2 linked regions of the Homo sapiens genome follow. Each later gene encodes a partner of the first gene's protein in a complex. Links are inferred from orthologs where the notes say so. Each region holds a gene or a part of one and is shown on either strand. Other genes may lie near its edges. The genes, in order: PFN2 and VASP.

Region 1 (3,784 bases):
ATGCAAAAGCATCCCAATTATCTTATATGCTGCCTAAGGAATGTCTTCTGCTCTTATGTGGGAGGGCCCCAGCTGGCTGACTTCAGCCTGCCAACACAGCTTCCAAATCTAAAGTCATATGACATTTCAATACAGAAAAATCCACAATAGTGCAGAAACCCTTCTTGGTACTCCCTTTACTATTAGATTTCACATCTAGAAACCAGCAAGAAGAGGAAAATACTTATTTTCTAGCAGATAAGTCAGTTGCTTCTCACATACTCCTGAAGATGAGCCTGAAATGACTAAAAGCTATGTGTAACAGATCAGAGTCCATTAAAAAGAAATTCCCAGGCACTAATTTTATCTGTAATATTACTTGAAGTAGGCCATCACCTAATATTGCTGAAGTTTTATGCTTGCAGCAGACTTTGGCCTATTCTGTGTATTCCCACTTTGTCAAAAATCAACTTTTAACAGTTTATATAAACAATGTATATAAACAACAGGAGCCTAGAGTATTTGGTTGGAATAAATTTATTTCATCTGTCTGTAAACAAGGTGTTTAATAGTTATGGCATTTTTTTAAATGCATATTAAATCAGATGAGTTAGACTGTATCCCAGATGTAACAAAGTGCAGGGAAAGAAATGGACAAATCAGCAACAAGATTTGTTTTTAAATCTGTACATTATCCACAAGGCCCAAACAATAGAAGCAAATACTAGAATGTCCCTAAAGTAGTGCCATTCGAAAGAAACCCTTAATAGGTCAGTTAAAATCCATCTCACAATAGCAACAGTTCATTTTAACAATAGTATGGCACAGAATACATATGAAAAAAATTCATCACAAGACAGCCAAGTCCACAATAATGCAACTTCATATAAAAACTCAAGCTGCAAATAAAAATTGGTCCTATGAAGAACAAACTGGACACACTCCAGATGGTTATGTTGGGATACCTAATGTCCATAATGGCAGCCTTTTACAATTTTACTAAAGAGTAGAGCTGGTGTGCAAAGAAAAAGGAAGAAAAATCTGAGCTATTGCAATGATGGAATGTCCCTGGGGATTCAATCAGTATGGTTACTGTAAGGTCATGGGAGGAAGTGCTTTTTGCTCTTGTTTTGCCATTGCACTCTTCATATGTCCTGTAGACACTATGAATAAAGGTTTGTCTCTGCTCAAGTGCAACAACAATACTAAAAGCAAACTACTGCAGCTCTCAATAGCTCATCAACAAAAGGGATTTTAATTGGTTAAAAAAAAACAGGCACTGCATAAAAAAAGATGGAAGCAAACCAAATGCCTATGTGCGAAGGGAGGGGGGGCGGGAAAAAGAGAAGAGTGAAGGAATGATGCATGCACTTTTTCCTCCCAACCATGCGCTACAAAAGGAAGACTAAATGAGCCAAGTAAATGCTCAAAGTGCTGAAAAGACACTGATCAGAGATTGTACAACCGGCACCTTGCTTAATATTAACTTATTTTAGTAATCAATATCCCATTAATTGCTAAGACAAAGTGATGCCCAACTTGGCATGCCCCCTCCCCCCAATTTCAAGGTATCATGCAAATCATTATTGTGCTGCAATTATGTTGCCAGATAAGGGTTGGTTACATACAGTGGTTAACATACAAATGATCCATTGGGCAAACAGGAATCATGACATTAGAAAATAGGTAAAGAAAAATTAGCTACCATCTACAGTTTGGTAGCATTGTGACCATAATTAGGGTTGTTGATGAAGACAGTTGCTAGGTAGATGGGGAGAGGCTGCTTACACATCAGACCTCCTCAGGTATAAAGCGAGTTCATATGCTTTCTTGTTAAGTGTGCCTCCGTGGACACCTTCCTTTCCCATGACTATAACCAATGCTGGAGTACACAAGGAAACAAAACAAAAGTGAACAGAATTATTTTGGGGGGGGAGGGCAGAAAGAAAGACACCTTTCCCCACCAACAGAGGGATACAAAGGAGACACAGGTTCATACCCCATCACCCTGCATTGCTAATAAAATTTCCAGAATTAAGACTTAAGCTTATAGCTAGGAAAGTTTAAGAGCAATTTTCCCCTAATACTTAACAGTCTGCCTAGCAGCTAGAACCCAGAGTCTCTCAAGTATTTTGCCATTGAGTATGCCTTCTTATTCAATCCGCCTCCATGGACCCCTTCTTTTCCCATTACAAAGACCAAGACTGAAAGAGAAAGAAGAAAAGTGTTTCAAAAGAAGTGTTAATCAAGAAAGTCACATAAGTTTTAGCAGACAGAACCCGGATTAATAAGTTAACATTAAGTTAGTTTTCCATGAACTGCCAAGCACTGAAGTCAAGTAGGTTTCCAAAAAGAACTTTCAAACTAGTAATATACTAAACAGAAAATAGTAAACTTGACTGCATCTTGGAAGCCAATCAATGCAAGCAAAAGTTCTATACAACTATCTTTACACTAGCTACAGAAAAAAAAAAAAGTGACCATTTGTCTTCTATTTTAGGGCAAAAAAATTCTGGCTGATGTCAAGTACATGTTATTACTTGCCCCCAAAATATAAACTTAATAAACCTGGGGAGTTACTTACTTACAAACTCTCCCCAAATTTTAACATGCTTGATAAGTTTAAACTATTAAGTTTTACCAGTGAGGCTAAATGTATCTATTATTTCCAGAGGAAAATGAAGATCAAATTTTAAGTAGCATACTCAGTATCATTCAGAAAAGGCCAAATTAAATTATTTAAGGTGTTTGCTTACTGATAACTTCACCGTAGTAGCCTTGTTTTTAATTGCGTCTAAAAAAATAGGTTTACGATTTCTAATTGCTCTTCTATGATGCAATTCAAAGGTGTATAACCCAAAATATATGTATATGTCAAATTTTATATTCACTACCACTAGATGTCAGTAGTGCTGTATCGTATAAAATATTCTGGTTTTTTGTCTTGTGTTTGACGCTTCTTTTCAGCGTATAGTGCAGCTAAGGTTTAAAGAGATTTGTCACTATTTCAAAGTCATCTAATTTTCTTATAAATCCTTATAAACATCAACTCACACCAGAATACGAGTAACTTTTAGGATAATCACAGGGAGCTGGTAGAGCCATAGCATTAATTATAACTCACAGCAGCTTCAACTCCCCTCACATGGTAGAGCTGTTATTAAAATTAGATGTGCCAAGTCAGCTATGTGAGGCTACAGAAGCACTCTCTATTTACAAAATATTCGTATGCGTTAACACATTAAAATGTATTTGTAAATCAATTAGATGTCATAATAAAACTCAATTTCAAAAGTTTATTTTGAAAAAGTAGGGAGACTTCTTTAGTGCAATTAAGAGTTTCTATAATGCTGACAACAGTCTGGAGACACCTGAATTTCTGGACCAAGTATACAAACTAAATGTAATTTCCTACTTTTCAAATCTAAGTCTCAGACACAATCTTTGAAAATATTTCAGTGAATGGACAACTTACTCCAAAATCCTCATCTAATTATCTTTTCCCCAGCAAAGTTCCTAACTGAAAAATGAACGGATGTTAATTTTTCCTTCTTTATGCTGAGTAGTGAAATGGTTAGAATACAAGCAAGAAAAAAAAGAAAAGAGATCCAAAGGTCAAACACACACCAAAAGGGACTAAAATAACCAAGTGATTCGAACAATTTAACAATCTGAAACACCACAGGATTATGATTTGACATGTCAAGCAGTTTAAGAGACTTTTAAGTTTAATAAAGCTGAAAGTGAGTTCATACGAATATTCTATCGTAGAAACAAAATCAGGATCTAAGAGGCCAGGTCATAG
Region 2 (7,292 bases), on another chromosome or scaffold:
CTCGGCTCACTGCAACCTCCGTCTCCTGGGTTCAAGCGATTCTCCTCCTCAACCTTCCGAGTAGCTGGGACTACAGGTGCCTGCCACCATGCCCGGCTAATTTTTATATTTTTAGTAGAGATAGGGTTTCACCGTGATGGCCAGGCTGGTCTCGAACTCTTAACCTCAGGTGATCCACCCGCCTCGACCTCCTAAAGTGTTATTATTACAGACGTCAGCCACCACACCTGGCCCCTCATGGCAGTTCGAACAATGATACTATTACAACCTTGTGGCCTCCCCACCCCGGTACTCAGTTTATAGATGGGGAAACTGAGGCACAGGAAAGTTAGGCAAGGTGCCTATTAAACTCAAACAGGGCCAGGCGCCGGGGCTCATGCCTGTAATCCTAACACTTTGGGAGGCCAAGGCAGAAGGATCGCTTGAGCCCAGGAGTTTGAGAACAGCCTGGGCAATATGGTGTAACCCCGTCTCTACAAAATATACAAAAATTAGCTGGGTGTGGTGGCATGCGCCTGTAGTTCCAGCTACTCTGGAGGCTGAGGCGAGAGGATCGTTTGAGCTGGGGAGGTTGAGGCCGCAATGAGTCATATTCTTGCCACTGCACTCCAGCCTGGGTGACAAAGTGAGACCCTGTCTCAAAAAAAAAAAAAAAATAGAGATAACATGCTTTCCGTGTTCTTAATGAAGAAAAAGAAAAAAAAAAAGGAACGTGCTTTCACTGTGAAAACTCTTAAGATAATTCAGATAAGCCAAATGAAACCGAAGCTGCAACATTTATCTTCCTATTCACTTATGGGAAACTGAGGCCCACCAGGAGGAAGGGACTAGAGTAGCCCCATCCCCGACAAAAGAAGATTTGTCGTTTGGAAGGGTGGTGTATATGTATCATAGGTTTTATGGTATAAGGAGGGTATGGGCTAAGTCTTGGGTTCAGGGGACAGTGAAGGGAAGGGTAAGACTGCAAGTTTTGTGAAAACCGGATTCACCATGCTTGATTACCTCTGGTGATGGGAAGCTCTCTCCTTCATGTGGAGCGTGTACCAAGTTACAGTTCCTGCGTTTAGGGCTTTTTGTCCATTATCTCTTTTAATCCTTACAATGAACCCAGTGAGTTATTGTTTCCAGGGCTGGAAACTGAGTTTCAGAGAGGCAAAGCCACACAACAAGGAGGCAACTTGAACCGTCTTTTCATCCGCCATGTGCTAGAGTTTTCCAAAATGTGGGGACTTGCAGGGAGGAGTGGGTCCTGGGCTGGCTGGAAAATTAAAGTGTTCTCATGTCCAATGGAGGGTTCTAGACTTCGGGAAAACACACTGGAAATGGGCAGAACTCCTTTCCATCTCACAGCCCCCGCACCCCCGTTTTATGGCTATGGGATTTTCGTTCTGGCTTTTGTGTAGTTTACAGTTTTATTTATTGAACTTAAGTAGTGAGTTAGGTTTTTATAGGTAATTTCAACCCATGATAAGAAAACAAATAATAAGCAGTTTGAAATACTTACTGAAATTATTGAAATGGTGGCTGGGCCTGGTGGCTTATGCCTGTAATCCCAGCACTTTGGGAGGTCGAGGCAGGCAGATCACCTGAGGTCAGGAGTTTGAGGCCAGCCTGGCCAATGTGGCAAACGCCCAAACCCCATCTCTACTGAAAATAGAAACATTAGCCTGGCGTGGTGGCACACGTTTGTAATCCCGGACACTCAGAAGGCTGAGGCAGGAGAATCGCTTGAACTCGGGAAGTGGAGGCTGGGAGGCTGAGGCAGGAGAATTGCTTGAACCTGGGAGGTGGAGGCTGCAGTAAGCTGAGATTACACCACTGCCAGCCTGGGTGCAGAGTGAGAGACTCTGTCTCAAAAGATAAATGGTACAAAATATTTGTTTCTTCCCTCCCCAGTTCCTGAGTTCCCCTCAATGGAGGCAGCCACAGTTAGTGTCTTGGGAAACAGTCTCTGCATATATCACCACTCTGAGTGCAGATATATTTATATATGCTCCTCACTGTTTTTTTTTTTGAGATGGAGTCTTGCTCTGTCGCCCAGGCTGGAGTGCAGTGGCGCGATCTCAGCTCACTGCAACCTCCACCTCCCAGGTTCAAGCAATTCTCCTGCCTCACCTCCTGAGTAGCTGGAATTACAGGCACGCGCCACCACGCCCAGCAAATTTTTCTATTTTTAGTAGAGACAGGGTTTCACCATGTTGGTCAGGCTGGTCTCAAACTCCTGACATCAAGAGGTCCGCCTGCTTCGGCCTCCCAAAGTGCTGGGATTACAGGCTTGAGCCACTGCGCCTAGCCTACCTTTTTTGTTTGTTTGTTTTTGTTTTTGAGACGGAGTCTTGCTCTGTCCCCCAGGCTGGGGTGCAGTGGCGTGATCTTGGCTCACTGCAACCTCCGCCTCCTGGGTTCACGTGATTCTCCTGCCTCAGCCTCCCAAGTAGCTGGGATTACAGGCGCCCGCCACCACGCCTGGCTAATTTTTTGTATTTTTAGTAGAGACGGGGTTTCGCTATGTTGCCCAGACTGGTCTCAAACTCCTGACCTTGTGATCCGCCTGCCTTGGCCTCCCAAAGTGCTGGGATTACAGGCATGAGCCACCGCACCCGACCTTTTTTTTGGTTTTGTAAAGCCTCTGATCAACACTACCTTGTACTTTGGCTTTTAAAAATTTCAATTTAGCTCTGCTTCTTCATCTTTAAATGAAGTTAAGAACTTGTGGGAACTTCGTTTCAACTATGAGCCCCTCTGCTTACTTGCTGTGTGATCTGGGGCAAGTGCCTTCACTCCTCTGTGCCTGCAATTCCCCCTTGTCAAAAGGGTGAGCGTCAGAGCCTATCCCATGAGGTTGTAGAGTCATGCAGCAGGGAAATTGGTGTCAAGCACCAAGAAGAGTGTCTGGGACCCAGGCTGACTGAGAAATGTTAGGTGTCCTAGGTAAAAGTTTGCCTTTTTTTGTGAGGGAGTCTTGCTCTGTGAGGGAGTCTTGCTCTGTTGCCCAGGCTGGAGTGCAAGTGACCTGAACAAGGCTCACTGCAGCCTCATCCTCTTGGACTCAAGTGATCCTCCTGCCTCACCCTCCTGAGTAGCTGGGACTACAGGCAAGCGCCACCACACCCAGCTAATTTTAAAGTTTTTTGTACAGACGGAGGTCACCATCTTGCCCAAGCTAGTCTCTCTCCTTTTTTTTTTTTTTTTTTTTTGAGACAGAGTCTCGCTCTGTCTCCCAGACTGGAGTGCAGTGGTCTGAGATCGGCTCACTGCAACTGCCTCCTGGGTTCAGTGATTCCCCTGCCTCAGCCTCCTGGGTAGCTGGGATTACAGGCATGAGCCACCATGCCTGGCTAATTTTTGTATTTTTAGTAGGCATAGGGTTTCACCATGTTGGCCAGGCTGGTGTCGAACTCTTGACCTCAAGAGATCCACCTGCTTTGGCCTCCCAAAGTTCTGGGATTACAGGCATAAGCCACCACACCCAGCCTTCCCAAGCCAATCTCAAACTCTTGGGCTCAAGTGATCCTCCTGCCTCAGCCTCCCAAAGTGCTGGGATTACAGGCGTGAGCCACCTCCCCTGGCCAAAGTTTGCCTTTTTTTACAGATGTTTCGTAACTATTGAGTCCCTACTATGTGTTGGACGCCATTCTAGGTTCTGGGGACACAGCAGTGAACAACTGGGACACAAATTTCTGCCTTTTTGGCAGCGGAGACAGACAAATATTGTGTTGGGCAGGGGTCACTGCTATGAAATGTGCAGCAGGGGATGAAAAGGAGAGAAGCGTTTCCAGCTAAGGGAGTGAGGGACGGCTTCTTGGAAGGGGTGACATCTAAGGAGAGACCTGAAAGTGGGGAGAGGCTAGGCCTGAGGAAGAAGCAGCACACAGGCCCGAGGCAGGAATGTGTCTGGCCTGCGGGAAGAGCAGCATGGGGGTAGGAGGTCTAGGGTCTGGAACAGAGTCCCCAAGGGACAGTGGAGCGGGAAGAAATGAGATCTGAGGACACACAGATCACGGAGGCCCTGGAGAGAACTTGGCATTGATTCCGTAGGAGCCTGGAGCCTTCAAGAAGAAGAAGAGACATCCCACCTTGTAGGTTTTTGTTAGTTTGTTTTGTTTTTTAGAGATGGGGGGTCTCACTGTGTTGCCCAGGCTGGTCTTGAACTTCTGGACTAAAGCAATCCTCCCGCCTCGGCCTCTCAAAGTGCTGGGATTACAGGCATGAGCCACCGTTCCCCGCCCCACCTCGTGTTTTAACAGGATCCTTCTGTTACAATGGGTATAGTGTTCCCTGGAGAGGGGCAAGACCACCCCTTGGTCACCCAGCAGGCGCCCTGTTCTCCGGCCAGTCCAGAGCCTCAGTAGGGCAGGGCTGCCTGGGAGAGCAAAGTGCAGCCAGGGCGGGGCAGCAGCAGCCCCGGGCTCCTGGCCAGAGTCGGCCCTGGGTGTGGGTGGCAGGTGTGGGTGAGGCCGAGGCCTTAACCCTGCCTTGCCAGGGGCAGCAGGAGCCAGAAACAGCCCCCGAGGCTGTGTTTGTCTGGAAAGGGCACCTGGTGTTTGGGTGGGGCCCACACAGTTCCCGGTGGTTAAGGCTTGGAAGCCTGAATTCACATCTTCACTCTATTCCTCAGTAGCTGTGTGACTGTGGGCAAGTCACTCAACCTCTCTGGGCCTCTAGTCCTCACCTGCAAAATTAGAATGAGTGGCTCTCTGGATAAGCTGCAGTGAGAATAAAATGAGTGACTTTGGGGGAGGGGCTTAAGGCCCCTGATCCACCTGAAATGCCTAGTAAGAGGGAGATGGCACAATTAGGTAAATTTGAGGGTCCCTACCCCAGGTCCCTACCCACAGCTGAGTCTGCCTAGGGACTTTCCCTGCCCTGACTTCCCAGCATCAGTGTCACACCCAGCCCCCAGCCCTCCTAGAGACAGAGGCTTTGCGGGGGGTGTCTAATTTCTGTCCCCGGAAACCTCTGACCACCAACTTCCCCATTTCAGGAAAAAGCCTGGTGTGGGTGGGGTGGGGAGGAGACCAGTGCTTCCCCTTCCCCTGTGTGACCTTGGGCAAGTCACTTCCTGTTTGAGTTCCTGTCTAGGCCTGAGTTTCCTCACTGGGGGAGAGGGGATTGAACCTCCCAGAGGGGCTGGTGGGAGGGTCCCGAGGGTTGTAGCTGTCCCGGGCCCCAGTGGTGCCCATGAGAGGGATGTTGACAGTTACTGAGCTCTCGGCGTGTGCTGGACGCTGTACCAAGCACTTAGCTTTTTTTCTTTTTTTTGAAACAGAGTTTCACTCTGTCGCCCAGGCTGGAGTGCAATGGCGTGATCTCAGCTCACTGCGGCCTCCACCTCCTGGGTTCAAGCGATTCTCCTGCGTCAGCCTCCTGAGTAGCTCAGACTACAGGTGCACACCACCACGCCCAGCTAATCTTTGTACGTTTTTGTAGAGACGGGATTTCACCATGTTGCCCAGGCTGGTCTCGAACACCTGAGCTCAAGCGATCCATTCACCTCAGCTTCCCAACATGCTGTAATTACAGGCGTGAGCCACCACACCCGGCTGTACCAAGCCCTTTAGGTGCCCAGATTCATGTGCCCCTCCCCCACTGCCCTGGAGGTGGGGACTGTCATTTTCCCAGTTCACAGGCAAGAAGAGGTCTTGAGTGGGAAGGTCATGTGCCTGAGTCACATGAAGTAGGTGGCTCAGTGGGGATTTGAACCCAGGTCTGGGGATATCAGCTCCTGAACTCTGCACCAGTTTACTGACACCTCCCACCCAGGCTAAGTCAGACGTTGCCTTTTCCAGGAAGTCCTGCCTGACTCTCCAGGCTGGGGCAGGCGTTCCTTCAGGGTACCCCCAGACCCTGGGCTCCTTGGTCCTAAACCTGGGTTGGTACCGTCTGGGGACAGCTGTGTCTCCCACACTGGACTGTGAGCCCCAGGAGGGTGGTGCCGGAGCTGTCTGGGTCACTGCTGTGTCTTCATCCCCAGCCCCACCCAATATAGGCCAGACACAGAGCAGGGAGTATCTGGGGAATGGCCGCTAGTGCCCTGGGGAGCCAGGCGAGGGGTGGGCAGCGGGAAGTCCCTTTGGAGGAAGAGCTCAGAGGTCTGGGATGGGTCCCCAACCTGCTGCAGGCCTCACACTTCCCCTCCCAAGCCTCAGCTTCTTCCTGAGCAGGCAGTGGTGGAGGGGGGTGCGTAGAGATAGGGAAACTGAGGTCAGGCAGGGGCTGGTCCCTAGTGCAGCTCTGGGCTCTTGGCCTCCTTCTGGCCCCTCTGTCTTCCCTCCTGCCCTCTGCTCTGCTAACCCGCATCCCCCCACTGGCATTGGCCTCGGCCTCTTACACCCCTCAGCCTGTCTCTCCATCTTTATCTTTTCCTTCTTATTAGTTTTGTTGTGTTGTGTTTTTTATTTTTCATTAAAAAAGTTTTTTTGTGGACTGGGTGTGGTGGCTCACCCCTGTAATCCCAGCACTTTGTGGGGCTGAGGCAAATGGATCACTTGAGCCCAGGAGTTCGAGACCAGTCTGGCCAACATGGTGAAACCTCGTCTCTACTAAAAATACAAAAAATTAGCTGGGCTTGGTGGTGCATGCCTGTGATTCCAGCTACTCAGGAGGCTGAGGCGGAGAATGGCTTGAACCTGGGAGGCAGAGGTTGCGGTGAGCCGAGGACAGCCCGGGTGACAGAGTAAGACTCTGTCTCAAAAAAAAAAAAAAAAAAAAAAAGATTAGTCGGGTGTGGTGGTGCATGCTTGTAGTCCCAGCTACTTGGGAGGCTGAAGTGGGAGGATCGCTTGAGCTCAGGAGGTCGAGGCCACATTCCAACCTGGGTGACAGAGAGCAAGACTCTGTCTCAAAAACAAAAATAAAAATAATAATAATAATTATTATTATTAGAGATGGGGTCTCACTATGTTGCCCAGGCTGCTCTGAAATGCTTGGGCTCAAGTGATCCTCCTGCCTCAACCTCCAAAGTGCTGGGATTACAGGTGTGAGACACCACGCCAAGACCATCTTTATCTCTTTCTGTGTCTGCCTCTTCCTCCAGGTCCCCTGTCTGCCCATCCTTTTTCCCCACCCCTCCCCCATCTGTTCATCTGTCTGTCTGCCTTCAGTCTGTCTCTCCTCTTTGTCAACCCGACTCTCCCTTTCCCACCTCTCTCTGCGTCTGTCTCTTGCATCTCGTTTGTGTGTTTGCCTGTCTCTCCTGATCTGATTTTCTCTCCTGATCTGTCTCCCCCGTCTCCTTCTGTCCACGTGGCTCCTGCCTCCCTCTGTGTCACTCTCTTCCTTCCACACACTGT

The links.
Region 2: the proteins of PFN2 (region 1) and VASP are in contact, whole or in part, in a crystal structure (PDB 2V8C), measured with the Mus musculus proteins. The link is inferred for Homo sapiens from one-to-one orthologs. Residues at the interface, in NP_062283.1 of Mus musculus: Gly3, Trp4, Ser6, Tyr7, Asn10, Cys13, Tyr30, Trp32, Met131, Tyr134, Ser138, Phe140; in NP_033525.2 of Mus musculus: Gly165, Pro166, Pro167, Pro168, Pro169, Pro170, Gly171, Pro172, Pro173, Pro174, Pro175, Pro176.

Annotation. Positions count from the first base shown.
Region 1 is NC_000003.12:149,964,404-149,968,187, forward strand, and holds the end of PFN2 (profilin-2), read right to left. Parts: intron 2,184-3,784; coding exon 2,086-2,183; 3' UTR 1,862-2,085; coding exon of another isoform or gene 1,764-1,861; 3' UTR 501-1,763; downstream 1-500. UniProt on the Homo sapiens protein: Binds to actin and affects the structure of the cytoskeleton. At high concentrations, profilin prevents the polymerization of actin, whereas it enhances it at low concentrations. By binding to PIP2, it inhibits the formation of IP3 and DG.
Region 2 is NC_000019.10:45,510,293-45,517,584, forward strand, and holds part of VASP (vasodilator-stimulated phosphoprotein), read left to right. Parts: intron 1-7,292. UniProt on the Homo sapiens protein: Ena/VASP proteins are actin-associated proteins involved in a range of processes dependent on cytoskeleton remodeling and cell polarity such as axon guidance, lamellipodial and filopodial dynamics, platelet activation and cell migration.